Homo sapiens: one gene and its partners. The protein of the gene in region 3 purifies or fractionates together with the protein of the main gene of each other region. This does not show direct contact. Each region holds a gene or a part of one and is shown on either strand. Other genes may lie near its edges.

What was found.
Region 1: the proteins of ASIC1 (region 3) and SLC27A3 purify together in Homo sapiens (affinity purification with mass spectrometry; 2 studies listed by BioGRID and IntAct, with this or other methods). This does not show direct contact.
Region 2: the proteins of ASIC1 (region 3) and TNFRSF10B purify together in Homo sapiens (affinity purification with mass spectrometry; 2 studies listed by BioGRID and IntAct, with this or other methods). This does not show direct contact.
Region 4: the proteins of ASIC1 (region 3) and UFSP2 purify together in Homo sapiens (affinity purification with mass spectrometry; 2 studies listed by BioGRID and IntAct, with this or other methods). This does not show direct contact.

Annotation. Positions count from the first base shown.
Region 1 is NC_000001.11:153,770,485-153,778,876, forward strand, and holds the start of SLC27A3 (long-chain fatty acid transport protein 3), read left to right. Parts: upstream 1-4,922; 5' UTR 4,923-5,013; coding exon 5,014-5,680; intron 5,681-6,033; coding exon 6,034-6,243; intron 6,244-6,577; coding exon 6,578-6,736; intron 6,737-7,276; coding exon 7,277-7,401; intron 7,402-7,676; coding exon 7,677-7,871; intron 7,872-7,978; coding exon 7,979-8,069; intron 8,070-8,202; coding exon 8,203-8,392. Other genes in the region: INTS3 (integrator complex subunit 3), read left to right, coding at 201-249, 1,312-1,479, 1,856-1,956, 2,155-2,227, 2,441-2,597, 2,709-2,786. UniProt on the Homo sapiens protein: Mainly functions as an acyl-CoA ligase catalyzing the ATP-dependent formation of fatty acyl-CoA using LCFA and very-long-chain fatty acids (VLCFA) as substrates.
Region 2 is NC_000008.11:23,059,002-23,066,471, forward strand, and holds part of TNFRSF10B (tumor necrosis factor receptor superfamily member 10B isoform 1 precursor), read right to left. Parts: intron 1-7,470. UniProt on the Homo sapiens protein: Receptor for the cytotoxic ligand TNFSF10/TRAIL. The adapter molecule FADD recruits caspase-8 to the activated receptor.
Region 3 is NC_000012.12:50,053,027-50,060,595, reverse strand, and holds the start of ASIC1 (acid-sensing ion channel 1), read right to left. Parts: upstream 3,001-7,569; 5' UTR 2,680-3,000; intron 2,427-2,679; exon of another isoform or gene 2,374-2,426; intron 1,846-2,373; 5' UTR 1,830-1,845; coding exon 1,468-1,829; intron 838-1,467; coding exon 642-837; intron 1-641. UniProt on the Homo sapiens protein: Forms voltage-independent, pH-gated trimeric sodium channels that act as postsynaptic excitatory receptors in the nervous system, playing a crucial role in regulating synaptic plasticity, learning, and memory.
Region 4 is NC_000004.12:185,408,495-185,415,964, forward strand, and holds part of UFSP2 (ufm1-specific protease 2), read right to left. Parts: intron 7,374-7,470; coding exon 7,216-7,373; intron 6,854-7,215; coding exon 6,661-6,853; intron 5,379-6,660; coding exon 5,232-5,378; intron 3,920-5,231; exon of another isoform or gene 1-3,919. UniProt on the Homo sapiens protein: Thiol-dependent isopeptidase that specifically cleaves UFM1, a ubiquitin-like modifier protein, from conjugated proteins, such as CD274/PD-L1, CYB5R3, DDRGK1, MRE11, RPL26/uL24, TRIP4 and RPL26/uL24.

The DNA of each region.
Region 1 (8,392 bases), on a different chromosome or scaffold from region 3:
TGGGCCCACCATGAGCCAGGCTCTGGGCTGGGGCTCAGGTGGCTCAGGGACTGATAGGAGTGGGGTAGGGGATTCTTCCTGGCTCCTCATCAAAGACTGTCCTTATTCCCTCCAGTGGCTGTTGGGGGATGAGAGAGGTCCCCAGATTCCATCCTGGAATCATACCTTCCCCCTGAACAGCCTCTGCCCTTCCCTCACAGAGCACCCAGAGGCCCTGTCCTGCCTACTGCTTCAACTCCGAAGAGAAAAGTGAGTTCCACTTCTGGGGCTCTTTAGCCCTCAATTTTAACATCCCAAGAGCTGCTGTGGTCTAAAGGGCTTCTGTCCTCCTCCTTATTGCCATATTTTTTCCTGTCGTTAACATCTGCTTATTCTGCCCTTCCCCCAACGTGACTTACAAATGAGCAGCTCCCCTGGGATCTGGGCTTCCTCTCGACTTTACCCCCCTGCCCACCAGGAGCTGCCCTCGGAGGTGGGGAGGTGGGGACCGGACATCCCTGTTTCCTGCTGCCACAGCAGTTCTAATCCCTGGTGGCTCCTGCTCCCCGCCGCGCCCCCCCCACCGCCCCATGCTCCTGCTGGCCACCGCACAGCTAATCCAAGAGGAGGGAGGGTCAGGGTAGAGGGGTCACGCACCATCCTCTCCCTCACCCTGTGCAGAGCAGAGCCAGCTGGACCTACTGTGCCTTGACAGGGTGGGGCAGAGAGGGAGAGGGTGGCAGCCCCCTCTTCCCGCAAAGCCCTTTAGCAACATCCCCCGATAAATGGGGCAGCAGCTGTGTATCTTATCCTTCCTACCTTTCTGCCTTCCTTCCACCCTTTCTGCTCTCTTGCCTGAGAGACTATAAATGGTACAGAGTGTCCTAGAGGAAGTGGGAAGCTTGGAGGCTGTATGGGGCTGTGACTTCACAACCCTCTCCTGCCCCCTTCCTCCAGCTGGAAGCCAGGTTGGCCCACAGCTTTAGCAGGGTAGGGGTAGGGGAGCATCTGCATGCCACATGCTTGTGCTTCTGCCTCCCAGGCCCACTCCCTGACTGTTCTAGGGGAGGAGGAGGAGAACTGAGGGTCCTCCTTCCCAACACACACACGCACACGCCTTCTCCTACCACAGCAAGTGAAGAATCTCACTTCTTCTCTCCTGGCTTCCACAGAGGATGAAACCAGGCATTCCTTGGCCTAAGGAGAAGAGGGAGAGGGATGTGAGAGTAGTGGGTGGGTGGGGAGGCCAGGGCTTGGGAAATAAGTGGGAGAGACCCAGCATGCCCTGCGGCCACTGTGCAAGCAGCACCCAGTGCCCCCTTCCTCCCCCAGGCCCAGCGAGGAGATGGTGAAGATGGTGCTGAGCCGGCCCTGCCATCCTGACGACCAGTTCACCACCAGCATCCTGCGGCACTGGTGCATGAAACATGACGAGCTGCTGGCCGAGCACATCAAGTCCCTGCTCATCAAGAACAACAGCCTGCCTCGCAAGAGACAGAGGTGGGACACGGTCCCTGTCTACCCTCCAGGCCATGGCGGTCTGCAGTGATTGCTGTCGGTGGTGGTGGTGGTGGTGGTGGTGGTGGTGATGGGGGTCAGTGCTGTCCCAGCCTGGTTTGTGGGCGACATCTAGTGGTCCGAAGCCACATGGCATGCGAGACCACCGTGGCCCTTTCTCCCCATCTTCCAGTGCCCCTGTGGCCAGGATCCCCTGTTCTAGGCACACCTTTCTCACCCAACCCCAGCCCTCCCAGGCTGCCTATCCTGTTCCCCATGTAGGCTGCCTCTGTCTTAAGGGGGCCCTGGCGGGTGGAGGGTGTCTCGCACTCTGGAACCCTCCCACACTCAGACTCTGGCTCTGGTGATTCCTGCACAGCCTGAGGAGCTCTAGCAGCAAGCTGGCCCAGCTGACTCTGGAGCAGATCCTGGAGCACTTGGACAATCTGCGGCTCAACCTGACCAACACCAAGCAGAACTGTATGCCTTCCACCCTCGGCGTCCAGTGTAGACGGTGCTGCCCTGGCCCAGACTATGCCTGGAGCCAGGCTGGGGGCAGGGGCAGGACACCCGGGGCCACAACCCACACTCGGGATAAAACAACCTGTGCGTGCTGTTTAATAAGCTCCCAGACATCTGATTGTTTTTCCTTCCCTGCTCTCCCTTTTCTTCCTCTAGTTTTTAGCCAGACGCCAATTCTCCAGGCGCTGCAGCATGTCCAAGCGAGCTGTGACGAAGCCCACAAGATGAAGTGAGGCTCCTGCCACTTTGGGCCTTGGAAAGTAGTAGGGGAAAAGCCTAAGGGAGAGGAAGCCTGCTAGGGACATAAACGTAATGGCCAGCAAGACCTTAGGGTCCAGGGTTGAAGAAAAAGAAGGCCTAGGCCTGGGGGCAGAGAAGAGGATGGGAGGTGCCGTAGGAGCAGCAGGCTCCCACTCAAAGAGCTACCGCTCCTTTTCCTTAGATTCAGTGATCTCTTCTCCCTGGCGGAGGAATATGAGGACTCTTCCACCAAGCCACCCAAGAGCCGGCGAAAAGCAGCTCTGTCCAGCCCTCGAAGTCGAAAGAATGCCACACAGCCCCCCAATGCCGAAGAAGAGTCGGGCTCCAGCAGTGCTTCAGTGAGAACCCAGCCAGTGCACAGGGGGAAAAGGAGCACTGGGTGCAGGTGGAGTCGGCGCCAGCAGCTGCCCAGGCTGTTAACTTCCCATTTCCCCTCCCATCTCTTCCAGGAAGAGGAAGACACGAAACCGAAGCCTACCAAGCGGAAACGAAAAGGGTCCTCTGCAGTGGGCTCTGACAGTGACTGAGGCCCTGCATTCCCCATCCCACCCCCGGCTGGACTGCCCTCTCCTTCTTGGTGATTCAAAGGTTAATAGAGGCTGAGGAGATTGCAGGGGAAACACCCTTGCTGCATCCCCAAGCTCCCCCGGTGGAAGGAGGAGCTTTCTCCTCTGGCTGAGTTTGAGAAGCTGCCATGCAGCCCCTAGCCCCTTCCCTCCTCCTGGGGCCTCCAGCCCCTCACACTGCTGTTCCCAGTGATATTTGGGATCTGACTGAAGCCAGAGGCTCTGTAAAATCAGACCATAGTGGAAGTCCTCAGCCCCCTGGCCCCTTCCGCAATCTCCTCCCCCAGTCTCCCAAAGAGCCATTTCAACAGAGAAGGGAAATGACAAAGGGGCAGCTGGCCAGATAAGCTAGGATGAGAGCAGAGACTCAGTGTGTGGGTGTCCCTTCCTGCTTCCCCTTCAGGTCTTGGTTTGTTCTGAAGGGACGTTTTATAGTCACTATCCACATGCCAGTGTGAAATGGGCATCTATGACGTGGTCAGGGTGTCCATTCCTAATCATGGGGCAGATGCCACAAGCATTCAGAAAGGAGTCTGAAAGGGTGGCCACAGCCCCACGTGGTGTGCCCTGGAGGCTTAGGTTGGTCTGAGGTTGGCACCTCAATCTACACCAGAGCCCAGGGAGTCCCAGAGGCAAGTTTCACAGAATTGTCAAATGATCCCATTTCCTTGAGTCTGTTTTTTTTTTTGTTTTTTTTTGTTTTTTTTTTGGCAGAGATAATCGTGTCTTAAAAGTTGTTTTTAAATGACAATAAAACAAGCCAGAATGTCTTTTGTGCTGGAGTGTCTGCTGGCATTTGCCCCGTGCATGTATAGCTTGGTCTTGATTTGATTGGCACCCCTACTTGTAACCGCAGAACATCCCCCTTTCCCTTCCTGTTCTGCCCCCACTTTTGTCTAGAGCAGAAGGGACTTGGCTTTGGCCACTACCCATCCTTCCTGCTGCCACTGGAGGTGGGAGCCAGGCACTGATCTGTCTATGCAGAACCATCCCCCGTAGGATGAGGCCTGTCCTTACTCATTTCTCAAGAAACAAGATGCTTCCAAAAGGTCTGTCATCCTCCAGTTGAAGTCTGTGTGCCTACCAAGAATGGCCGGAGGACTCGCTGCTTGACGGGAGGGATGCTCCAGCTTGGTCTCCAGGGACAACTGTACCTGGAGATAAAGTCTGGATACCAGGGAGGGACAGAGATGCTCTTCCTTCCACAGTGTGGCCACTTGCTGGGCCATGTGAACCAGCAGAGGAGAGTTCCTTGGCTATGCTGTTGTTCCCCCGCTGTCCAGGGAGAATGGAGGTGGACTGAGGAGTGAAGTTTGGGCGAACTGCACAGAGCTGCTCCTCTTCACCCCGAAAATTTGTCTTTTTACAGAATCCAGGTTCTCCCCTCCCTCATCACTGCTGTTGCTTCCTTTGAAAGTCTAAACCACTGGAGGCTTCTTTTTCCTTCCTCTCTCCTTCCCCAGTTTCCTCTGTCCCAATTAAAACCAGGATGGAGAGCATTTGCTGGCTGGCCCCAATTATTGTACCCTTGCCCAAAGGGAGGGGCCTCTGTCGTGACCCCTCAGAAATCTGGCAGTCTGGGTTTCCACCTTTCCCCTATTTAACTCTCAGCCCCCACCCATCCCCTGGGGTTGCGGCTGGCAGGCCGGGACTTGCAGAACCAAATGGGCCAGGGGCCAAGTTCATTCTTTTGGGAGAGAGCAATGGTACCTTCCCTTAACGGGAAAACGAGAAATATTGAGGGGAAGATGGACTGCGATCCAAACGCCCTGGCTCTCAGGCCTGGACTCTAGGGCTTAGCCAGATGCCTAAACCGCCCAAGCCGAGAAACAACTTAGAAGACAGACATAACCCTGGGATTCAGGGAAGGCGCGAGCACCGCCCAGGACCTGGTAGGGTGCGAGCCGCGAGCAGTCCGGGAGGGAGCGCGCCTAGGGCGGAGCGTAGGCTGTGGGGGGAGGGCTGGGAGTCCGGGGCCGCCCCACACCCGCACTCCTCCCGGGTTTCTGCTCTCCGCCCGTGTGGAGTGGTGGGGGCCTGGGTGGGAATGGGCGTGTGCCAGCGCACGCGCGCTCCCTGGAAGGAGAAGTCTCAGCTAGAACGAGCGGCCCTAGGTTTTCGGAAGGGAGGATCAGGGATGTTTGCGAGCGGCTGGAACCAGACGGTGCCGATAGAGGAAGCGGGCTCCATGGCTGCCCTCCTGCTGCTGCCCCTGCTGCTGTTGCTACCGCTGCTGCTGCTGAAGCTACACCTCTGGCCGCAGTTGCGCTGGCTTCCGGCGGACTTGGCCTTTGCGGTGCGAGCTCTGTGCTGCAAAAGGGCTCTTCGAGCTCGCGCCCTGGCCGCGGCTGCCGCCGACCCGGAAGGTCCCGAGGGGGGCTGCAGCCTGGCCTGGCGCCTCGCGGAACTGGCCCAGCAGCGCGCCGCGCACACCTTTCTCATTCACGGCTCGCGGCGCTTTAGCTACTCAGAGGCGGAGCGCGAGAGTAACAGGGCTGCACGCGCCTTCCTACGTGCGCTAGGCTGGGACTGGGGACCCGACGGCGGCGACAGCGGCGAGGGGAGCGCTGGAGAAGGCGAGCGGGCAGCGCCGGGAGCCGGAGATGCAGCGGCCGGAAGCGGCGCGGAGTTTGCCGGAGGGGACGGTGCCGCCAGAGGTGGAGGAGCCGCCGCCCCTCTGTCACCTGGAGCAACTGTGGCGCTGCTCCTCCCCGCTGGCCCAGAGTTTCTGTGGCTCTGGTTCGGGCTGGCCAAGGCCGGCCTGCGCACTGCCTTTGTGCCCACCGCCCTGCGCCGGGGCCCCCTGCTGCACTGCCTCCGCAGCTGCGGCGCGCGCGCGCTGGTGCTGGCGCCAGGTAAGGCTGGAGCTCCGAACTGACTAAGGCGGGGCCAGCCACAGAAGGGGGCGTGTCGGAGACCACAGAAAGGCTTGGTCTCATCCCTGGGCCTGGGAAGAAGCCGACTATCCCTTGGGGTTCGAAAGTGGGTGGAGATAGGAGTCTCCGGGTTTGAGAAGGGATGAGGCTGAATCTTTGGTGCCCCAAGGATCCCCAAGGAGTCGAGTTCCAGGCCTCAGACCCAAGATGGAATGTCCATACCCTTCACCCTCATCCAAGAGCAGTGTGGGCTGGGATAGGGAGGGGACATGGGTCATAGGCTCTTCTAGGTAGAGCCAGGGCCCCGGCGTTGTGCTTTCCCACCCTTCTAGAGTTTCTGGAGTCCCTGGAGCCGGACCTGCCCGCCCTGAGAGCCATGGGGCTCCACCTGTGGGCTGCAGGCCCAGGAACCCACCCTGCTGGAATTAGCGATTTGCTGGCTGAAGTGTCCGCTGAAGTGGATGGGCCAGTGCCAGGATACCTCTCTTCCCCCCAGAGCATAACAGACACGTGCCTGTACATCTTCACCTCTGGCACCACGGGTGAGGGCCGGGCACCATACTTAGCTCCCCGAAACCAAGGCAGAGGAAGGCAGGGGTCTGCTCCCAGACCACTCCTTCAAAGCCCCCAGAGAGGATGCTGATTTCATTGGCACATCCTTTTTCTCCCCATCATTTCACTCCCCAGTCTCCTCACCTCCTACTCATTTCTCCACCTCCCCCAGACCACCCATATTTCCAGGACAGCCTGGTCTCGGTCCTCAGCTTCTGTCCTGCCTCCGCCTCTTTCTGTGGGAAACCCAGCGGGGGTGCAAACAGATAGGTAGAGCTTGGAGTTTGCCCTTCCCCTGATCGTCCCATAACTGCCACCCCACAGGCCTCCCCAAGGCTGCTCGGATCAGTCATCTGAAGATCCTGCAATGCCAGGGCTTCTATCAGCTGTGTGGTGTCCACCAGGAAGATGTGATCTACCTCGCCCTCCCACTCTACCACATGTCCGGTTCCCTGCTGGGCATCGTGGGCTGCATGGGCATTGGTCAGTCTCCCCAACCCCACCTTCATTAATTCATCCAGTAGACATTTATTAAGCACGTACTATGGTGTGAGTCCTCCAGGGTAGATAATCTAGAGGACGGATGGGGCAGAGCCCTACTCACCAGGAGCTCTGTACAATAGGGCAATGTCACCTGCCTAGACCTACAGACTGAGGAACGGTGAGGGGGGCCATACAGCCACATAACTCCAGGCTGCAGGGTCAAAGGCAGGGAAGGACTGTGTCAGTCCAGGAACAGGCAAGTAAGAGAAGAGGGAGAGAGAGACAAGGAAGTGAGAGTGTGGAGGATGAGATCTTTGGGGCTGGGAAGTAGGGAAAGGGCATTCACCTCTTCTAAGGCTGGGGACAGGGGCCGGGGGAGGGGAAAGAGGGCCAGCACGGCTTCCTGACGGTGTGACTCCCACAGTGGGCCCTTCCCAGGGAAAGACTACAGTGATGGCTGGGGTCTGGAAAGAGGGGCTTGGGCTCCCCACTCTGCTCCTAATCTTACCTCCCTTCTTCCCCCCTGCCCACTTCTGGCAGGGGCCACAGTGGTGCTGAAATCCAAGTTCTCGGCTGGTCAGTTCTGGGAAGATTGCCAGCAGCACAGGGTGACGGTGTTCCAGTACATTGGGGAGCTGTGCCGATACCTTGTCAACCAGCCCCCGGTGCGTGGGCACAGATCCTGGGCAGAGCTGCTGACACAGGGCTAGCTCACGGGGAGCAGGACAGTTGACAGGAGACAGGGAGTTGGAGGGAGAAGCAGCAAGAAGAAAATGGCAGTGTAAGATAAGGAGCCAGAGATGGCCTAGGCCATCTGATGCTTACGGCCTCTGAAGGAGGTCACAGTAGGAGGGGGTTCTGGGGAATGGGGAACAGGAATTCACTTCCGGGAGCGGGCATCTTGATGCTGAAGCTCCGGCCCCTCTCCCACTCATCTCAGAGCAAGGCAGAACGTGGCCATAAGGTCCGGCTGGCAGTGGGCAGCGGGCTGCGCCCAGATACCTGGGAGCGTTTTGTGCGGCGCTTCGGGCCCCTGCAGGTGCTGGAGACATATGGACTGACAGAGGGCAACGTGGCCACCATCAACTACACAGGACAGCGGGGCGCTGTGGGGCGTGCTTCCTGGCTTTACAAGGTGAGGGGCAGAGAGGAAACTGAAAACCCGTGGAACAGCAGAGGGCTGGCAGGAGAGGGGGCTCATGTGACTGCAATGATCCAGTACCCAGGTCTCCCTTTCCCCAGCATATCTTCCCCTTCTCCTTGATTCGCTATGATGTCACCACAGGAGAGCCAATTCGGGACCCCCAGGGGCACTGTATGGCCACATCTCCAGGTTGGTGGTGTTCTGGTGGGGTGGGCGGGGTGCTGAAGCTGGCACAGGAGGACTGGAATTGGAGACTGGGGTGGATGGGGGCAGAAGGCTCTGGGAAAGGTGACACCACTCCTGACCCTGGTGACTCTGCCAGGTGAGCCAGGGCTGCTGGTGGCCCCGGTAAGCCAGCAGTCCCCATTCCTGGGCTATGCTGGCGGGCCAGAGCTGGCCCAGGGGAAGTTGCTAAAGGATGTCTTCCGGCCTGGGGATGTTTTCTTCAACACTGGGGACCTGCTGGTCTGCGATGACCAAGGTTTTCTCCGCTTCCATGATCGTACTGGAGA
Region 2 (7,470 bases), on a different chromosome or scaffold from region 3:
CTTCCCATTCTTCCCTCCTTACAACCGCTGGCATCCAACATTCTACTGTTGGTTTTTATGAATTTGACTACATTAGGTACCTCAAGTGGAATCCTATTTCATTTGTCCTTTTATGAATGGCATTTTACTGAGCATGTCTTTAATGTTCATCCATTGTGTAGCATGTGCCAGTATTTCCTTCCTTTTCAAGGCTGAGTAATACTCCATTGTATGAATATACCACATTATCTATTGATCTGTCCAACTTGAGTTTCTTCCACTTTTTGGCTATTGTGAATAATACTGCTATAAACGTGGGTGTACAAATATCTGTTTGAAACCATGCTTTCAATTCTTTTGGACGTATACCTAGAAGTGGGAATGATGGATCATCTGCTAATCCTGTTTTTACTTTTGAGGAACTATCATACTGTTTTCCATAGTGGCTGCACCATTTTACATTCCCATTAACAGGGCACGAGGGTTCCAACTTCTCTACAAATTTGCTAATGCTTATTGTGTGTGTGTGTTGTTTTTGTTTTTTGAGACAGAGTCTCGTTCTGTCGCCCAGGCTGGAGTGCAGTGGTGCCATCTCAGCTCACTGCAAGCTCCGCCTCCTGGGTTCACGCCATTCTCCTGCCTCATCCTCCCAAGTAGCTGGGACTACAGGCGCCTGCCACCACGCCGGGCTAATTTTTTTGTATTTTTTTTTTAGTGGAGACGGGGTCTCACCATGTTAGCCAGGATGGTCTCAATCTCCTGACCTCGTGATCCGCCTGCCTTGGCCTCCCAAAGTGTGGGGATTACAGGCATGAGCCACCGCACCCGGCCTGTGTGTGTTTTTTATAATAGTCATCCTGATGGGTATAGGATGGTATCTCTGTCGTTTTGACCAGCAGTTCCCTAATGATTAGTGATTAAAGTATCTTTTCATATACTTATTGACCATTTGTATATTTGCTTTGGAGAAATGTTTATAAAAATCAGTTGCCCATTTTTAACTGGGTTGTTTTTGTTTTGTTAGATCGTAGGAATTCTTTATATATTTTAGATATTAAGCCCTTATCAGATATATAACTTAAAATATTTTCTCTCATTCTGTGGGTTTTGCCTTTTTATCCAGTTAATAGTATCTTTTGATTCACAAGAGTTACTGATTTTCAAGAAGTCCAAAATGTTTATTTTTTCTTTTGTTGCCTATGTCCATGGTGTCACATCCAAGAAATTATTGCCAAATCCAATGTCACAGAATTTTTATCCTATATTTTCTTTCAAGAGTTCTATAGCTTTAGCACTTACATTTACATCTTTTATTTGTTTTTAGCTATTTTTTAAATACAATGTTAGGCTAAGGTTCACTTCATTCTTTTGAATGTGGATATCCGGTTCTCCTAGCCCCCTTCATTGAAAAGACGGCCCTTTCCTCCATTCAACAGTCTTGGCATCCTTGTGAAAAATAATTTGGCCATATATGTGAGTGTTTATTTCTGGCTCCTCTATTCTATTCCACTGATCGATTTATCTGCTTTTATGTCAGTACCATCCTGTTTTGATTACTGCAGCTTTGTAGGAAGTTTTGAAAATCAGGAAGTGTGAATCCTACTACATTTTTATTCATTTTCAAGATTGTTTTGGATATTCTGGTCCCTAGAAATTCCATATGAATTTTAGGATACATTTTTTCATTTCTGCAAAAATGTCCTTGGGATTTTGATAGAGATTACATTGAATGTATAGATCACTTTAGGAAATGTTGACATAATTAGTCTTATAATTCATAATCATGGCATATCTTTCCATTTATTTTTGTATTCTTTAATTACTTTCAGTAATGTTTTATAGTTTTCATTGTACTAGTCTTCCACCTCCTTGGTGAGTTTACTCCTATTTTATTATTTTTGATACTATTGTAAATGGATTTTTTCCTAATTTCTTTTTTTGAATTGTTCATTGGTAGTGTATAGAAATGCAATTGACTTTTCCAGTTGATTTTGTATTCCGCTTCTTTGATGAATTCATTTTAGTACTACTAAATAAAAATTAAAAACACAGTTTAGATATACCCCACGGCAATTACCCATAACCATGTAGCCAAAACTTAAGACATCCTGATATCCCTGAAACATTAGCTATAATCATAAAAAATCCCACAAAATATAAGTTTTACACCTTCATCATGACATAATATGGTTCAGTGAAGTTAAATCAAGCAGCTATAGAAAAATCAGCTTAAACAGCTCTGATTGCCTTTAAAAAGAATATAAATTTATAAGTCAATCATGAAATTGTCAAAATACATCCTCCTTTATAGCCTGTACTATACCTGCTGTAAGGCAAGTTTCTTACCACTTGGTTTGAAATCTCCCAGATTGCAATCTGTACTGTCTTTTACTGAACAACAATAAATTTCAAAATTTTAAAAATTTAATATTATTTTATTTTTGGCAGTTTAATTTTTTGTGAAATCTTTTGGATTTTTTACCAGTAAGATCATATCATCTGAAAACACAGATTATTTTACTTTTTCCTTTACAGTCCAGATGCTCTTATTTCTTTTTCTTGCCTGTTTTGGCTAGAACTTCCAGTACTATGCTGAGTGGCAAAGGTGGGTAGATATCCTTATGTTGTTCTTAATCTTAAAGGAAAAGCTTTCCGTCTTTCAACACTGAGTATGATGTTAGCTGTGGGGTTTTCTTACATGGCTTTTATGATGTTGTGGAAGTTTTCTTCTATTCTTAGTTTGCTGGGTGTTTTCATCATGAAAGGGCTTTGAATTTTATCAGAGGCTTTCCCTGTATCAACTCAGATGATCATGTGTCTTTTTCCCCCTTCATTCTATTAATGCAATGTATTACATTGTTCAGTTTTCATTTGTTCAAACATTCTTGCATTCCGGAAATAAATCCAACTTGGTCATGGTGTATAATCCATCTAAGGTACTGTTGAATTCTCTCTGATAGTATTTTGTTGAAGATTTTTGCATCAGTTAGGGATACTGGGATATAGCTTTATTTTCTTGTAATATCTTTATCTGCTTGGGTATCAGAGCAATGCTGGCCTTACAGAAAGAGTCAAGAAAGGTTCCCTTCTCTTCAAGTTTTTGAAAGAGTTTGAGAAGTAGTGGTATTAGCTCTTCATTAAAAGCTTGTTAGAATTCACTAGTGAATTCTGTCAGTTTAATTAATAGTATTGAAGAATCAATGTTGGTTTTGTGGATTTTCTCTATGGTTTTTCTTTTTTCTTTTTCTTTCTTTCTTTGAGACAGAGTCTCACTCTGTTGCCCAGGCTGGAGTGCAGTGATGTGATCTTGGCTCACTGCAACCTACATCTCCGGGGCTCAAGTGATCCTCCCACCTCAGCCTCCCGAGTAACTGGGATCACAGGTGTGCTCCCCCGGGCCAGGCTGCTTTTTATATTTTTTGTAGAGACAGGGTTTTGCCATATCCAGGCTGGTCTCAAACTCCTGGCTTCAAGCAATCCTCCTGTCTTGGCCTCGCAAAGTGCTGGGATTATAGGCGTGAGCCATCACATCCGGCCTCTACTGTTTTTCTATTCTCTGTTTTATTTATTTCTCTTCTAATAATTATTTCCTTTATAATGCTAACTCTAGGTTTGGTTCATTCTTTTTCTAATTCCTACATTTGTAAACTTAGCTCGTTGATTTAAGATCCTTCTTCTTTTTTAATTAAACCATTTCTGGCTATAAATATCATAGATGGAATCAGATACTATATATGCTTTTCTGTCTGGTTTCTTTAACTCAGCATAATTATTTTGAAATTCGGTCATATTTTCATATGCATCAGTACTCCATTCCTTTTCATTACTGAGTTGTATGGCAGAATTAATATGGTAATATTATAAAATGTAGGAGACTTGAAATAATACAGATTGATTCATCTCCACTACTCATTCTTTCTGCTATAGTTGTCTCAGGCATGTTCATATGTTACAAACCCTACAAAGTGTTATATTACTTGATAGTGAATATTTTCAAGAAATTAAGAGGAAATAATCATTCTTTATATGTGCATTCATATTTCTATTCCTGATGATCTTCCTTCTTTCCTTAAGATCCATGTTCCCAGCCAGGCAAGGTGGCTCATGCCTGTAATCCCAGCACTTTGGGAGGCCAAGGCGGTGGATCTCCTGAGGTCAGTAGTTTGAGACTGGCCTGGCCAACATGGTGAAACCCGGTCTCTACTAAAAATACAAAAATTAGCTGGGTGTGGTGGCAAGCGCCTGTAATCCCAGCTGTTCAGGAGGCTGAGGCAGGAGAATCGCTTGAACCCAGGAGGCAGAGGTTGCAGTGAGCCGAGATTGCGCCATTGCACTCCAGCCTGGGCAGCAACAGTGAAACTGTCTCAAAAAAAAAAAAAAAAATCCATGTTTCCATTTCATTTCATCTCTATTCAGATTGAAATCTTTTAGCATTTTGTGTACTGCAGGTCTATGAGCAATGACGTGCCCATACTGTCTCCAATAGCACATTCAGGTTCCTAATTCTTAAAGCCATTTATGCCCATTTACTCTTTCTTATTTGGTAATGACCTCACCCAAGTCTCAGATTAGAAACACTAGAATCCACCACAAACCTCTTTCCTCTTCTTACCAAACCCATTGCATCACCGGCCTGCGTTATCATCATTTCCCTCAGATCTGCCTCAGCTGCCACTTGCCTCCTTCACGATAATGCAACCTGACCCTCACCCTAACCACTAGGACCCATCCCGAATGCTGTCCAGGCCACACCTGAGTGCACCCACCTAGTCCACTCTCCACTGGGTGAACAATGATCTTTAATGGGTGGATCTGATGAGGGATGTCCCCGGGGAAAACTTGACAATGGCCTTGGTGACTCTGGACTTGGGTGATCCTCCGTACTCTATTCAGATCCTCTGTTCTGTCCTCAGCCTGCCTGCCACACTCCCCACCTCTCACGTTTAACACACTCTATGAGCAGGCTGAGGACACAACGTCTGGGTTAGTGCAGCTTCCTAGAATCCACGTTACTCATTCATTCATTCATGGAAGGCATGTAGGCGCCTGGCGACCGCATATGCAAGGAGCCGTGGAGTATCGGGAACATGGCACGGCCCTTCCTTTCCTTAGCACAGTTTCCATTCACAGGAGCTGAGGCACAGCCATCATTAACCCCAAAGTCCATGAACTTGCAAAGAGTCTGGAGGGGCTGCCCAGGCAGAGGTGACAAATGCCATCGGTGGCAGGGACAGTAGTGGACATAGAGGAAAGAGTGCACACAGACAGAATCCCAGACAGACAGGAATCCAGTGTAATGGGGGAGGGGAGTAAAAACAAGAGAGGTACTGCTGAATTAATATTGTAATATGATTACAAAATGTAGGAGAGTTGAAATAATATAGATCCATTCATCACCATTCACTCTTTCTGCTGTGCAGGACGAGGCTGTGCCGTCCGTGGGCCTCTCTGATTGAGGGAGAATGGGCGTGTGGCCAGAGATGCACAGCTGTGTTGGGCCACAGAAATGGGCTCATGGGGGTGTCCATGGGCATGGTTAAGAGAGAGAAGGAAAACAAGAAGAAGGGAGGTCAGGGGTTTGGCTTATTTCAGTTCTTGTCCCATTGAATTCTAGGGACCCTGCCTCCTCCCGGACATGAGCCATTGGCGGGGTTTCCCTGTCTTGTGACTCACCCACCTGTGATTCAGGCTCCTTGCTTTACACCAAGTTTGAGCATAAAACCTGCTAATATTTCTCGTCAAAAATTAACCCGAGTAACCTCTTCTTTCCTCTCTGAGTCACCCACATCCTTAAAACTGCCCAGGATAATCACAGTTCCTGCATAGGTTGTTGTGTGAACTGAAAGTGTTAATATGTATGGAAAGTGCTTAAAACACAGAACTTTAAACACATGCTCTGATTAGTACGATCATTACCCTCAATGTTGATTTTAAGCAAACCATATTATCCTGGCCAAACTACCATGACCTGGAGCCTTGGGACTGCACAGCCTCCCTCTGTCAGTCAAATATGGAGGGATGACATCTCTGGAGCCAGCACAGCCACTCTGGAGGTGGGGGAGGTGACAGTGGTGGGACCTCATGCTTCCTGATAGTTATTTAGGTCCCTGCTGTCACCTGCTCCACCAGACTGTGGGCTCCAGGGAGTAGTCAGTATTCACACAGGGCTCATTTGTCCTTCCCCAACCCAGGCACAGATTTTCCCAGAGTAAAGGGTTCCTCCTCTACCTGATGAATGAATCACTCCTGTCCCCGCCGCCAAGCACATGCAGTGAGACTAGCTGTGGCCTCAGCTCACTGCGTAAGGACAGCCTCCAGCTACAGCAGGGGCAGAGGACCCTGTAGAGCTCTGTAGTCTCTGTTGAGAACCACAGGCAGGAACTCCCAGAGGCCAAGTGCAGGGCAGAGACTGGGAGAAGCAGCTGCCTGGAGGACTCTGGATCCTTGCAGAAGACATGTCCAGTGTCTGCTGAGACTGACTCTAGGTGCCTGAGAAGAAGCCACCCAGGGAAGGAGAGACTAGATTGTGGACCACTCAGGGCTGGGAGATCTGCATGTTCCCCTTCCCACAGTGGACAGAACGCATGCCAGGGTGCTGGCGAGTTACCATCAGAAGTCAACCACTATAACTTTAGTAGTTAACTAAATGAGCCCCTGAATAAGGCAACTGAACACAAGGTATATAGTTATATGTAGATAAAAGCTAGTATCAGAGGAGCAAACTGATCCTCAGTTTTCTGTGACCAGAATAATGCCCAATAGACTTTGAAAGAACACAGTGATGTTCGGTACCCAAGAAAGCAAAATTCACAATGTCAAGCAATAAGAAATTACTATGCATGAAAAAAAAAGTCCCTATGGGCAGGAAAAAAAATGTAATCAACAGAAACAGTGGCCGTAATAACAGATATAATGGTGTTGATAGATTAAATAACTTAAAACAGGTCATCTAAAGCTTACAAATATACTCAAGAATATTTAAAAAACAGAAAAACAAAAAACACCACCACCAAAATCATAGGTTGCGCACGGTGGCTCAGGCCTGTAATCCCAATACTTTGGGAGGACAAGGTGGGAGGATTCCTTGAGCGCAGGAGTTTGAGACCAGCCTGGGCAACATGGTGAAACCCCGTCTCTACTAAAAATACAAAAATTAGCCAGGTGTGGTTGCAAGTGCCTGTGGTCCCAGCTACTTGGGAGGCCGAGGTGGGAGGATCACTTGAGCCCAAGAGGTTGAGGCTGCAGTGAACTCTGACTGTGCCACTGCACTCCAGCCTGGGTGACAGAGTAAGACCCTGTCTCAAAAAAGAAAAACACAAAGATGACCAGGAAATAGATGGAAGATATTAAAAATGCCAAAAGAGAACTTCTAAAGTTCAAAAAATATATATCTGATATACAGTAGATGAGATTAACAGCAGGTTAGATTCTGCAGAAGCAGATCAATGAACTTGAAGAGCCCTCACAGGGAAATGTCCAAAGTGAAACATA
Region 3 (7,569 bases):
TCCTGGCTCTGCGGCTCTTGCCGGCAAGCAGGAAACCTAACCAAACAGTGTATGTGTCTATGTATGGGGTGCGGATGGCACACAGGGAGTTACTGTCTGGCTATTTAAGAGAAGGTTTCCCTTACTTGTGCTTCACGGTGCTTCTCAAACTTTAGTGTATACTCCAGTCACCTGAGGATCTTATTAGATGGAGATTCTGGTTCAGTAGGTTTGGGAAGTGGGGTGGCAAAGTCCTGCATTCCTTTCAAGCTCCCAGTTGATGGTCCTGGACCTCACTACAAGTAACACGGCTGTAGCTTACCCACCTGTCTGCTCAGCTCTGACACCTGTGGCCTAGAAGGTAAGCTTGGTGGGTTTGTGGCTATGCCAGACCACGCACGTGTGTGCATATATGTGTGTGTTGTGCACTGTAGGCTCTCTTTCCTGCCATCATGGCTGCAAGGCTGAGGCTCAGGTGCTCATGCAGTGAGTGCAAATGTGCCCCTATGCTGAACAAACTCCCCTTCTACTAGAAGCAAACCCCAGGACATACAACTTCCTCTCCCAGAGTAGCAAGCACCCGGAGAGGCCCAGCCTGCTCCTTGTCTCCTCCTCCTCCTCTGTGGGCCAGGCTGACTCACACCCCACACGAGGGGACTCACCACCTTGAAGTCTTCAGCGCTGCAGACCTCCCCCCGGAAGTGGCAGGAGAGCAGCATGTCTCGAATGTCGTGCCCAGCTCGGTCGTAGAACTCACGCATGTTGAAGGGTTTGGGTTTGAAGCTGCGGAAGTTGGCTTTGTCCTGCAGTATCTCCAGCTGCTTTTCATCTGCCATCTGTGTGTCTGGTATCTCATACCTGGGGTCCGGGGGTGAGTGACACACGGGTCAGTACAGTCATCAGTGTCCTGCACCCAACTTGGGTGATGGGGGCAGCCTCCAGCCCTGGGGATCAGTCCCAGGTGTAGGCAAGGAAGGAGAGCTGGGCATGCAGAGGCTCTACCACATGGGTCTGAAATGACAGGAGGAACTGTAGTGGCTGCCCAGGGGCAGGGCATCCCATCCCAGCACATGGGTGAGAGGAAGCATGGATAAGGTGGGCAGAGAGACAAGGCAGGGGCTGTGGCTTTTATACTGTAGTTTCTACCCTTTAAAGATGTTCTGTCCCCATCCCCCAACTGACGAGAAGGTCAAGACAGAGTGGCCAGAATGAAGGTAAAGCTCACTCCAGAGAGGGTGACAATGTCTCATACCTCAGGCTGGGTGGGGGTCGAGCTGTTCTGGACTATGCTGGGATCGGAGGCTGGGTGCCCTTAACTGGGTGCTCAGCAGCACCCTAACTCCTCTGCTGTGAGTGGCAGGTTTGGGGGTGGGGGTGGGTTAAAGGGCAGGGTTGGCTGGGCTCTATGGTGGGTCAGGGAGGCAGACATCCTGACTGGAACTCAAGCAACTCCAGGAGCAGGGCTGAGGGAGGGTGGGAGCCACCCACCTGTTGTTGAGCAGGGCCAGCAGCTCCCCAGCATGATACAGGTCATTCTTGGAGACTTGGCTAAAGCGGAACTCGTTGAGGTTGCACAGCGTGACAGCAGGGAAGGTAAGCTGAGAGGCAGCCACCTCGTCGAGCTTGGTGACATGGTGGTAGTGGAAGTAGTACTGCACACGCTCCGTGCACACACACAGCAGCACAGCCAGGGAGCCCAGGAAGCACAGGGCCCACAGTGCCCGCTTCAGAGACAGCCGCTCGTAGGAGAAGATGTGGGCCAGGCCGTGCAGTGTGGAGCTGCTGGCGAAGGCCTGGATGCTCACCGGCTGGACGCCACCCACCTCCTCCTCCTCGGCCTTCAGTTCCATCCTTGTTGAGGGGATCCTGGGGGAGGAGGGAGGGACAGTCTATCATTGTCCTGGGATGAAAGTACACATGGAGCCCCTCCACATGTGCCCATCCAGAATCCTCATCTCCAGAGGTCACCACTCCTCGGGCAGAAGACTTCCCTGCTTTGCAAGCCCAGAGGTGGCTGACCAAGGGACACATCCAGGGTTCCTCCAAATACAGAGGCACAGGGGGTCAGGTCAGGCCAAGAGAATGCTCCCCAGAGAAGCTTCCCAGGCCCGGGGAGACCCCAGATATAGTCATCCGAGGTTGAGGGGGAAGTCCTGATGCACCCATAGGCAGGCGCAGGAGTTCCCTCCAGATGTGGGGTCACTCTGGGACAAGAATATCCACCCCATCCTGGAGATGAAAACTCACCCAGATGGGCTGACCCCGGGGTAAGGAGCTCCTGTCCTGGTCACGGGTATTCCCTGGACGGGGCTGTGGTCCTAAGGGCTAAACTGGGGCCAGAAAACCCCCAGGGAGGTGGCTACATCTAGGGAGGGGCCCAGCCTGAGTCCTCACCTGCGGGTGTCTCCAGTTCTCACATAAGCGCAGGCTGTGTGTATGTTGGGAGTGGGGGGTGGCGGGCTGCCCGAGGTGGATGTATGGAGGGGGGGCGCGGTTCCCTATGACAGCGAGCTGTCCCCGCCCCGGACGCAGCCCCCCCCAGTCCAGCTTCTCGTCGCAGTCAGATCCCCAGCTCGGCCCCCGCCCCCCTCCCCAGCCACCGAGCCGCCCCAGCAGCAAGGGAAATCCAGAGGGAGGAGAGTCCCGGCTTCGGGGTACCGAGGAGCCTCGCGGCCAAAGGCAGGGGTATCGGAAACCCACCTGAGGGGGCTTCGGCAAGCCGGCAGCCGGCGGCGGGTCCTGGGGCGCTGGACCGGTGGCGGGCTCAGCGCCGAGTCGCGGAGGGGCTCATGGCCCGGGGCCGGAGCCCGCGGCCGCCGCGGCACGCCGCGCAGAGCCCTGCAGGGAGCGCCCCGCCCGGCCCCGCTCGGCTCCGATCTGTCCGCCCGCCCGCGCGCGCTGGCTCGCTGGCTCGCTCGCCTCGGCTCGGTCTGCCCGGGCTCGGCGCGGTGCGCGGTGCTCTCAGCCCTGGGATCTGCAGGGATCCATCGTCCGGCCGGGAGGCGGCGGGAGGGGAGGGGGAGGGGAGAGGGTGCGCGTGCGCGCCTACGAGTGTCTGCGAGGCTGTCTCTGGGCTGGTGTGCGCGCGGGGCCCCGGATCCGGGAGCGGGACCCAGGGCTCCCCGCGCCGCCTCGCCCCTCCTCGCGGCCGCTTTCGGCGGCGCTGCCTCTCTCCAGTCCCGGAGCCGTCTCCCTGCCTGCGAGGCCCTATGGCTTGTGTGTATGACTCTGTGTGTGGTGTGTGTGCGCGCGCGCGTGTGTGCGCGCAGGAGGGAGGGTGTCTGCCCCTAGCGTCCCTCTCCCCGCGCTGTCTCCTTCGGATCGATGCTCCTGCCTCTTGCTGCTGCTTCCTCTGGTGGCACACACGCGCGTACACACACACATACACACACACGCTCCGAGTCACACTTGACTAATTCAAGCACTTAGCCCATATGGAGACAGACACACATACCGACCAGAGTCACACCACACCATTCACAACCACACCCCCCCGCAACAGATGTCCACGTATCCCGGGGGCCTGACCCACATGGCAAGCACTCACCTGCTCTTATCCCTGCTCCCACCTGCATGTGACACATATACACGTGCACATATGTGAGCCAACACGCAGCCTTGACCACTCAGATCCCATCCTTGTAGCTTTGGGCTTGTGGGGGGCATGGTCGCAACCCCTTACTGCCAAATCTCCAAAGAAGGAGCAGAGAAAAGGAAGGAAAAATAGCCAGAGGTCAAGGGAATTTGGACAGAAGGAAGGAGGCAAAGGGAGTGAAGGGGACAGGGTGAGGAAGGGTTGGAACGGGGAGCTATGCTCAGGGATGGAGCAGAAGTCTCAGCACAGAACGCAGGCCTGGGGGCTGCTCCTGTGGCTCTCACCTTTCTCCTTCCCTGCCTCCCTCCTCTTCTCTGAGAGGCCTTGGGGAGGGGGGCCCTCCCTATCCAATTAACAGAGAAGGAGCAATCAAGGGGAAGTTGTTAATTTGCTGATGCTCATTAGGGGCTCTTAGCACAGAGGCTGTTGAGGTCTGATGGTGTCAGATGATGAGGAGGAGGGTGCGGGGGACCAGAGTTCTGTCTCTAGTGGCTCCTTCGCTCTACTTGCAGGCTGGTGCGGCTCGGGGAGAAGGATGGTGAGAGGTGTATTCCTAGGACATGGTGCCGGGCTTTAAGTTAGAAGAAAACCTGTAACGAGAAGGGGATGGCACATTGGAAAGAAGTTGGATGAGAAGTTGGGAGTAGTGGACATCTAGGAAACCAGAGAAGGGGTCTGGAGGTCCCTAGTGGGAGAGTGGACTTAAGATTGTGGAGGAGGGAGGTCGAGATCCATTTACTAGGGGACTGGACACGGAGCTGCCAAAAGGAAGGGAGGATCTTCCATTCAGGTCTTGGGGAGCTGTTCAGCGGTACCAGGCAGTGCTGGAGGGTTGCTATGCCCCCGGGCAGCCACTGGGTGGCAGCCCTCTCCCAGATACTTAGAATCAACTCGTGGGGGGCATTTGAGAGTGGGAAATCACCTGGGAGGGTCCCAGAGACCTGAGGAAGCATCAGGCAGAGTCTGATTCCTGAATTCCAAATATCCTCAGGGGGAGGGGAACACTATTTTGGAGCATCTGTAATTTCCCCACCTCCCCGCGGCTCGCAGGCTGACTGACACGTGGAGCCTCTTCAAATGGCTGCAATTGCTTCAGTCACCTGGGATGTTACTGAGGGAGCAGCGGGGGTGGAGGGAAGGTGATGAGGTGAGGTGGAGGCAGGCGAGGACTGATTGAGGCCAAGGAGCAGCCTCAGGAGGAGTCTGGGGGAAGACAGAAGGTATGAATCAGGAGAATCAGCTTCCAGACCTGGCCCTGCCATTCATTAGCATAGGCAGGCCCCTTGACCTCTCTGGACCTCGGTTTCCTCATCTGTAAGGCAGAGATAATATTTATTTCACAGGATTTTTCGAGGATTACATGAGCTAACGCATGGAAAGTGCTTAGTACATTGGCATGTACCTAGTAAATCCCAATAAGTAAATAACTATTATTAGTATTAGCATTTGGATCTAGTGGTAAAACCACCAGTGCAGCCAAACCAGGGCAGAATCTAAGGCACTGGTTCTTAACCCAGGCTGCACATTCGAATCACCTGGGGAGCTTTTAAAACTGCAATGCCAGCTGGGCGCGGTGGCTCACTCCTGTAATCCCAGCACTTTGGGAGGCAGAGGAGGGTGGATCGCCTGAGGTCAGGAGTTTGAGACCAACCTGGCCAACATGGTGAAACCCATCTCTACTAAAAATACAAAAAGTAGCTGGGCGTGGTGGCGGGCACCTGTAATCCCAGCTACTCGAGAGGCTGAGGCAGGAGAATCATTTGAACCTGGGAGGCGGAGGTTGCAGTGAGCCGAGATTGTGCTATTGCACTCTAGCCGGGGAGACAAGAGCGAAACTCCATTTCAAAAAATAAAAATAATAAGATAAAACTGCAATGCCAGCCAGGCGTGGTGGCTCACGCCTGCAATCCCAGCACTTTGGGAGGCCGAGGTGAGTGGATCACCTGAGGTCAGGAGACCAACCTGGCCAACATGGTGAAACCCTGCCTCCACAGAAAATACAAAAATTAGCCAGGCGTGGTGGCACGCACCTGTAATCCCAGCTACTCAGGAGGCTGAGGCAGAAGTGCTTGAACCCGGGAGACAGAGGTTGCAGTGATCGGAGATCGTGCCACTGCACTCTAGCCTGGGCAACAGAGCGAGACTCTGTCTCAGAAAAAAAAAAAAAAAACTGCAATGCCATGGCTCCACTTTAGACCAGTTAAATCAGAATCTCTGGGGCTGTGGCGCGATCTTGGCTCACTGCAAGCTCAGTCTCCTGGGTTCACGCCATTCTCCTGCCTCAGCCTCCCAAGTAGCTGGGACTACAGGCACCCGCCACTACACCTGGCAAAGTTTTTTGTATTTTTAGTAGAGACGGGGTTTCACCGTGTTAGCCAGGATGGTCTCAATCTCCTGACCTTGTGATCCACCCGTCTCAGCCTCCCAAAGTGCTGGGATTATAGGCGTGAGCCACCATACCCGGCCTTTTTTTTTTTTTTTTTTTTTAAGTTGGGGTCTCACCCTGTCGCCCAGGCTGGAGTGCAATGGCACAATCTCGGCTCACTGCAACCTCCGCCTCCCCGGTTCAAGAGGTTCTTCTGCCTCAGCCTCCCGAGTAGCTGGGATTACAGGCGCACACCACGACGCCCGGCTAATTTTTTGTATCTTTTGTAGAGCTGGGGGTTTCACCATGTAGGCTTGAACTCCCGACCTCAGGTGATCCACCCACCTTGGCCTCCCAAAGTGCTGGGATTACAGGCATGAGCCACTGCGCCCGGACAATCGCCCAACTTTTTGAGGCCTTTAACATATAGCCAATCTTGAGCAACCTTGCTCTTCAGAACTTATGGGTCTGAATTATGGTTTCATAGTGTCACAGGCCCCAGTCTTAGGAAGTTCTTTCTTATATACAACCTAAATCCCTCATGCTGTTGTTTCTTCTTCGTTTGAGAAGTGATGGGTCCTTGCACACACACATCCCCTCATCCCTACCCTGTACATCGCAGCAAACCTTCACCGAGGGTTTTCCTGGATCAAGCCCCAAGATTGGCCCTGTGGACATGGTGAGGATTGGCAGAGTCCTTGCCTCAAAATATCCCAGTGTGGAAAGAGAGACAAACATGTTGACTTGTGACTCTAGTGCAAGGGCCAGGAGTGAAATAGAAGGCTGAGCCAGGGCTGCCAGCAGAGAGAGGCAGGGGGGCAGTCACTCTGACAGGGGTTTGTGGGACAAGGATGAGGAAAAGAGGAAGTTGGTGTTGGCAGGGCCTTAGTAAGATAACACTTGAGGGATCCAAGGGCTGTGATTAGTGTCTCATTACTTCTTTCTGCTTCTCTGGCCCACCCACCCCTTGTCCAAGTCCTGACAGAGGATACTGGCTCCTTCAGCATCCTCCCAGCTTCTTCTCCATGCTTCGTTTTCTCTGGACCCTGCAGTCCTTAGACCTCAGTACCCTTTATCCCCACCACGGACTGAGAGGGAAACAGGCCTGAAGATATTTCTCCTTCTGCTGGCAGGAGGCATCTAGCCAGGGCCCACTTAGGACTTTGGCCTTGTGCTCACCTAGGTTCAAATCTCAGCTCTGTCACACCAGTGCTGTGTGGCCCTGGGCAAGTAACCTAGCCTGAGTCTCACTTTTCTCCAGAAACCATAAAACCCAGCTAATGCCCATGCTGTTGAAACAATGTGTGTCTAGCAAACAGTAGGGGGTGTTCCATCAATAGTGGCAAGCATTATGATCATCCCTGAAAGGCTGATGGGGGCAAATTCCCCATGGATGCTTCCCTTGCAGATGGCCCCATCTGCTTTAGGTGCAGAAGCGCCCTCCAGCCTCTCAGAGATGGGTGAAGAGGGAGGGTAAAGAGGGGGACAAGACCCCCTGGGATTTCCAGGCAGCTCTTCTCCGCTCCCCCGTGCATGAAATCACACGCGCCCCAATCTGTCTGCATCCACTTCATCTGCCGGCTCAGCAAATGCAGAGACAATTAAGGAGTTAATTAGCACGCACTGGGAA
Region 4 (7,470 bases), on a different chromosome or scaffold from region 3:
ATATGCTCCCGAATTATGTTTAATGTTCTTAGAGTTAGACTGTTACTTTAGTTCCTTATAAAAATGCCTTCACAGATCTATGGTTTAACATTATACCTTCTTGGCTTTTTATTTGAGGTTCAAAGTCCTTACCACAGGGCCCAGCAGGACCTACCTTCTGGCCTCCTCTCCAATTTCATCTCCTAAACTTTTCCCTATTGCTCCCTCTACTTTCGGTTCCCATATACCAGGGGCAATATGACCTTGGAGCCTCATGGTTCTCTTGGCCTGGAACTCTCTTTTCCCAAATTAATTGTACAGCTTGCACTCTTACTTCACTCAGGTTTCCATTTAGATGTCAAAGGTCTTCCTTGACCATCCAGTCTACAAACGGCCCACTCATTCTCTCACTACCCCACCCCCTGCCTCACCTGTCATCTCTGTCCTCTTTATGTTTTTATTTTTCAAAGTATATCATGACTTGATATACTTTAAATGATACATTACTTATCATTTAAAAAATATCTGCCTACTTACACTAATATGTGAGCTCAGTGAGTACATACACTGTGTCTTATCCATTTTTGGGCCCAAGCTTCTACAACACGCCTGGCACACGGTTAATATAAATGCTGCTGAATAAATGCTGAATGAATGAAGGAAGGAATAAAGGAATGAACAAACAAATGAAGGGTCCATATCATGGGACACAGGAAGAATGTGTCTAAATTTATAAACCTGCTATGATTACAGCCCAAGTATGTTATTTGATGACGCTAAGTTAAGGGTCAAAAAATAAAGATAAATAAATTACTAATATCATATAAATTCTTACTTATAGTGCTAAGAATGTATATGTCTTTTTTTATTAAAGAACTGGGTTTTTGTTTTTATTTTTTTGAGATTGGGTCACACTATGTTGCTCAGGTTGGTCTTGAACTTCTAGGCTCAAGTGATCCTCCTGCCTCAGCCTCCTGAGTAGCTGGGATTACAGTTGCACACCACCATGCCTGGCTCCAAACTGATGATATTTTTAAAAAATTAAGTGAGAGGAGATAGGGACAAGATAGAACCAACCCTCACCCAACAATTAGAGAATATATATTCTGCCCAAGCACAGATAGAAAAATTTATAACTTGACCATTGTGACAGGCTGAAAAGTGGCTCCCAAAAGGTATGTATGTCCTAATCCCTGGAACTTGTGAATGCACCCTCTGTGCCAAAAAGTAAAAGAAAAAAGGAAAGCAAAGGTATTCATAGACGTGATTAAGGATCTTAAGATGGGGAGGTTATCCTGGATCCTAGTGTGCCCTAAATGCAATCACATATATTCTTAAAAGAGAGGGGCATAGGAGGAGAAGGTAATGTGACTGAGGAGGCAGAGATCGGAATGATGGGGCCACAAACCAAAGGATGCTGGCAGCCATCAGATTAAGGAATGGATTCTCCCCAAGAGCCTATGGAGGGAAGGTGGTCCTGCTGACATTGTGATGTCAGCCCAGTGATACTACTTTCAGAACTCCAGAACTGAGACAATACATTTTTGTAGTTTTAAGCCATCAAATATGTTATTATTTTTTAGGGAACAAATACAAGTTTCAATAAATTTCAGAGTTAGTTTCACTTAGAATTCTTTCTGACCAGGAGGCAAGAGTCAGAAACCAGTTAAAACAAGAAGAAAAAAAAAGCAAAAAAGAAAAATAAATTCTGACATATTTGGACATTAACAAACACTTCTAAATAATACATGGACAAAAGAAAAACCATAATAGAAAAATATAAAAATACTTAGAAGTGAACAAAACTAAAATCCTTCAAATTAAACCTATAAGATACACTAAAAGCAGTGCTTTGCTTGAAATTTAAAAGCTTACATTAGAAAATAAGAAAGCTGTCCAGGCACGGTGGCTCATGCCTGTAATCCCAGCACTTTGGGAGGCCGAGTGGGTAGATCACCTAAAGTCAGGAGTTCGAGACCAGCCTGGCCAGCATGATGAAACCCTGTCTCTACTAAAAATACAAAAATTAGCCAGGCGTATGGCTATTGCCAGTAATCCTAGCTACTGGGGAGGCTGAGGCAGGAGAATTGCCTGAACCAGGGAGGCAGAGGTTGCAGTGAGCTGAGATCATGCCACTGCACTCTAGCCTGGGCAACCGAGCAAGACTCCATCTCAAAAAAAAGAAAGATTAGGCCGGGCGCAGTGGCTCACGCCTGTAATCCCAGCACTTTGGGAGGCTGAGGCAGGCAGATCACGAGGTCAGGAGTTTGAGACCAGCCTGGCCAATACGGTGAAACCCCATCTCTACTAAAAAATACAAAAATGAGCTAGGCGTGGTAGCACCCTCCTGTAATCCCAGCTACTTGGGAGGCTGAGGGAGGATAATCGCTGGAACCCAGGAGGCGGAGGTTGCAGTGAGCCAAGATTGTGCCACTGCACTCCAGCCTGGGCAACAGAGCAAGACTCCATCTCAAAAAAAAAAAAAAAGAAAGAAAGAAATATTAGCAATAAGCTAACATGTCCAACTTAAGAAGTTAGAAGAAAGACAATAAATCAAAGAAAGAGCAAAAAAAAAGAAAGTAAAGAGCAAAAATTAATAAAATCAAATACAGAAGTTATAATAGAGGGGGCCAACAAAGCCAAAAGTTTTTTTTTTTTTAAAAGACACAAGGCATAAAAATGATATGAAGAATGAAAAAGAAAATATTATGACTACAAGATATATTAAAACCTAGGTAAATAACTTATAAAAATCAAAAAGTCCTAAAGCTGTTACCAAAACTAAATTGGTTACTAAAAATCTTCTCACAAAGAAAATGCTACGCCAAAATTGTTTTACAGGCAAGTTTTACCAAATGACCAAGGAAAGATCATACCACTCTTATATAAACTTCTCTAAAAAACTAAAAAAGGAACATTAACCTAACTAATTTAGTAAACCAGTATATCACTAATAAAAAAACAAAATAAGAACAGTATGAGAGAAGAAAATTATAAGCCAGTATCATTCACGAACATAGATGCAAAAATCGTAAAATATTAGCAAATGGAATCCAGAGGGGAATAAAAAATAATGAGTCATAACCAAACCGAGTTTATTTCATGAATGCACATCTATATTGTTGAGAGATTTGTGCCAAAGTATTTAAGGGTAAATAATATATCTATAATTTTCCTTGAAATGGTTCAGAGGGGGAAAAAAGAGGGAGAAATGAAGCAGATATAGCAAAATGTTAACAACTGTTGCACATATGTATCGAGAGGTATAGGAATGTTCATTGTCTAAACAGCAAAAAAACTTGGAAAAAATCATAAAGATAATTAACTATGGTTAGACAAAATACCAGAGATGTTTGATATGTAATATTGAGTGAAAAAGCAAGCTGCAGAGACTACGTACAGAATGATACCATATTTATAAAACTCAGAACTATGCAATACTAAAAGCGACATTGCTGAGATTGATATGTAACATATACGCTGAAACTACTTTTTAAAAAGGAAGGAAATGATGAACACAAAACCCATAATAGTTCCTCCTGGAACTGTGTCGAGGAGGCAGAGGAGTGGGTAGGGAAAGAGCACAGACTGGTAAAGTTTTGCTTCTTAAATTAGGGAGGAGCTCCCTGGTATTCATTTCCCCACTGTGCTTTACAATTTGCATATGTTATATGTACATATCAAATATTACATGATAAATATGTAAAGTATATATTTTTCTTACGACCTTGTAATACAGATATAATGAACCTATTTTATTGTCAAAAAGCAATCAGTACTCATTCAATACCTTCTGTGTGTCCAGGTTCTTCTAAGGAACTATTCTTTTTGTGAGGAACTTTCTATGGAAGCTGGTTGGCCCACAGCTTTTGCAGATGATCTGCTGCCCTGAGTACACTCTAATGACCAAGACCACAAGTGGGCCCCTAACTCATCTAGGGTACGTACTGTATCGTATATGCATTTTTTTAATTCTTAAGATTTCCTCAAAAGTCCTGGACGCTCAGAAGGTATTAATAAATGCCACCATACGATAGCCAAGTTTTCTTTCTCTTGGGAATCTGAACTGAGAGGTGCAGAGTTAGCCAGGCAGCCAGGAGCAGGAAATGCAGTTGGAATGAGGCATACACTGGGCAGCTGAGGAAGAACAGGAAAAAGTGACACACAAGCTGAAACAGTGAGGATACAGAGGGTATGAGGTGGAGCAGACAGAGTAAAAGTTAAGAACAGGCCAGTTAGGATCACAAGCATACACAGAAAGCAATAGCAATGCCACCAAGGTATCCACGGAGTCCTTGAGAGAGACTGAAGACACCTGCTAGTCACAGGGCTGCTGTTTCTAAGAGGCCCAGCTCTATTGGTATTCCTAATCTTGGATGCCTTATAAGGTCCTTTCTCACTGGCCTCCATGTATCCTTAAAGTAACCCTTCCACCACCCTCCGCCAATTCACTCTTATTTGAGCTACCTTTAGGGAGGATCTATCCCTGGCAACCGGGTATATGTTACATGGAAAATAAGTCTAGTTCCTCATTAGACTTATCCTACAGTGGCTGGGCATGGTGAATCATGCCTGTAATCCCAGCACTTTGGGAGGCCTACATGGCGGATCACTTGAGGTCAGGAGTTCACGACCAGCCTGGCCAACATGGTGAAATCCTGTCTCTACTAAAAATACAAAAACTAGCCAGGTGTGGTGGCAGGTGCCTGTAACCCTAGCTACTGGCCAACATGGTGAAACCCTGTCTCTACTAAAAATACAAAAATTAGCCAGGTGTGGTGGCAGGTGCCTGTAACCCCAGCTGCTCAGGAGACTGAGGCAGGAGAATTGCTTGAACCCAGGAGGCGGAGGTTGCAGTGAGCTGAGATCACACCATTGCACTACAGCCTGAGTGACAGAGCGAGACTCTGTCTCAAAAAAACAAAAAAAGATTTATCCTACAGTGTGGTTTGGGTAGACTATGCCCTTAATTAGCATGATTTCTCAGGTTCAGAATGAAAAAAAATGGGACAAGCCTTTAAAGAAATAAGAGAATTTTAGTAAGATAAATGTGGTATATCTACCTATTACTAACTTTTCTAGACCATTTTTAATTACTGCTATCTTAAGCAATGTCTGTTAACAGAGATGGGTGATAAATCATGTTTTAGGAATGAATACATAATGAATCAAGTCTCCTACTGGGTACCAACAAAAAACAACTAATAACATTACTGATCCAGTGACTCCCATAAATAATTAGTTAAACTCACCATACCAGTCTCCATGTTAGGTGGATTAAGGTAAGTATGTGGATTTCTAATGTAACCATCTTTGTATGGCTCATCTGGAAAGTGATAAGCATTAGACCTTTTGAAATAGGGTCTGTCGTGAGGCAGATTGAAAAGATCATGTAACTCCTAAAATAAATCAGAATCAACAGAAAAAGAAAAAATGTTGGTGATTTAGATTCCTAGTCAATAAATAAAGATGTTATTAAACATGGAAAATTATATATAGGTTATAAAAGTTTCCAAACACTTATGGTTTAATTCACTAACATCAAAGATGGTGAAAACTGAACTAAAACCAAGTAAGATTTATTTTCGTTTACGTCTGTATCTGGGTAGAAACTGGAAGGGAACAGAGAAAAATGAATATAAATTGTTAGAGTAAGAGAACTAATTTTTAAATAATTATTTATTACAACATAGTCTGTTAAAATACATCCAGGCTAAAGACTGGTTTTGAAATAGCCTTGTAAATGAGTAAATTATAATTAACAATAATTATATCAAAGTATTTTGCAAAATTGTGTCGAGTGCCTTACAAATATTTTATATTGTAAGTGGTAGTGATTAAACTACAGAGTAGAAGTTAGTGGTCTAAAGCCAACCAATATGGCAGGAAAACAAATACACATATATGTTTAAAATGTGTTATTTTCCCAACTATATAAAAACATGTAATAGGTATTTTAAAAAGTTTGACATGTTCTTTATCATATCTTGTACTCCAGTGGTTTTAAAAGATCAGCTCCTGTAGCTATTGCTTCTACAAACCAAGTCACCTCCACATACAGAGGGTCAGGGTATTCTCGCTCTCCCTAAGGACAGAAATTAGGAAGATGCTCCACGGTCTAATTTGATAGGTTCTAAGCGAGTCCACATATCAAAAAGATGCACTCCAAAACCAGTCATGAGTAAATCTCATTACTTTGAATGCTGGTCATGTTTTCTCCAAAATTCCTCTAATAAAGCCCAAATAACCTTACTTGTGGAGTATTACCATAAATCCTATTCAGAATTAGCATAAGTTATCATTTTCCTTCCCTAACTGTAATCTTGTCTCTTTCACAAATCGGAAAGTTATAGAAATCTGTTAATACCAGCAACTTTAGGCATGTAAGCACCATTTCTATATTTCATTATGGAAAAATATTAAAATTTCACAGAATATATGAACCACACCGAGCATTTAAAATTAAAATGTTACATATAGGTTCAACATAACATTTTGTCATTAATACTACTTAAAGTTTCATGAGAACAGAAATTAAATAATGTGTAAAATGAATAGTCTAAATTCCACACTTTTAAGTTAAATCACAAAATACCTTCCATTTAGTGGAAATATATAATTAAATACAAAATGAATGATAGTCATTATTGTTTTTTCTAAGAATAGATGAACTGGTTTTACCTTCCTATAGGCCTGCAGCTGGCCATCTGGTATTCCTGAAGGATATGAAATTGTTACAAGATTTTTTTTCCCTGGTAATAAAAAGTGCAGTGGTTCAGGGACCACAATAGATGTTCCTTTCATATATTTCAAAATACATTTTTCCATGTCAGTTAGTTGATTATGAATTGCATCAACCAGGAGTTTACGAACTCTGTGGGGGGAAATATATAAGTGTATTAACAAAAGTTATAGTGACTACAATAAAGAAAAGTACAGAGCTAATATATCCTTAGTATAGTAAAAAACTTGATTGGACCAGGTTTGCTAAAGGAAGTCTGAATTATACATTATAAAAGAAACTGTGTATTTGCTCTTTGTGGATAAAGGGAAATCCTCCAGGTTTTAGCATGCTACCCTACTTCCTCCAAATAACCATTTAATTAATAGATGGCTCTTAGGTTAATAATAAACAAGGAGAAAATCACACCTTAGGTATACCTACAGGATATACAAACATGGGTTTGGGGAAGGGCCCTCATTCAAATGTGGCAGTGGTACTATAAAAATACTTACTTTCCCCATGTTTCTTCTGGAGCAACAGATATAACTGCATCGACAGGTAAAGTCATATTAACATAATGGTGTCCTCCGCTTTCCCTTTCAATGATGGGCGTTACAGCTGCCAGGGAGGTTGACATTTCCAGCATAAGATCTATATTTACTATTTGATGCTATATAGATAAACAGTAATAGTCAACTTGTAGTGCATTAAACACTAAATATAAAGAGTAAGTAAAAAGACTTTTCAAAAATGTATTTATTATTAAG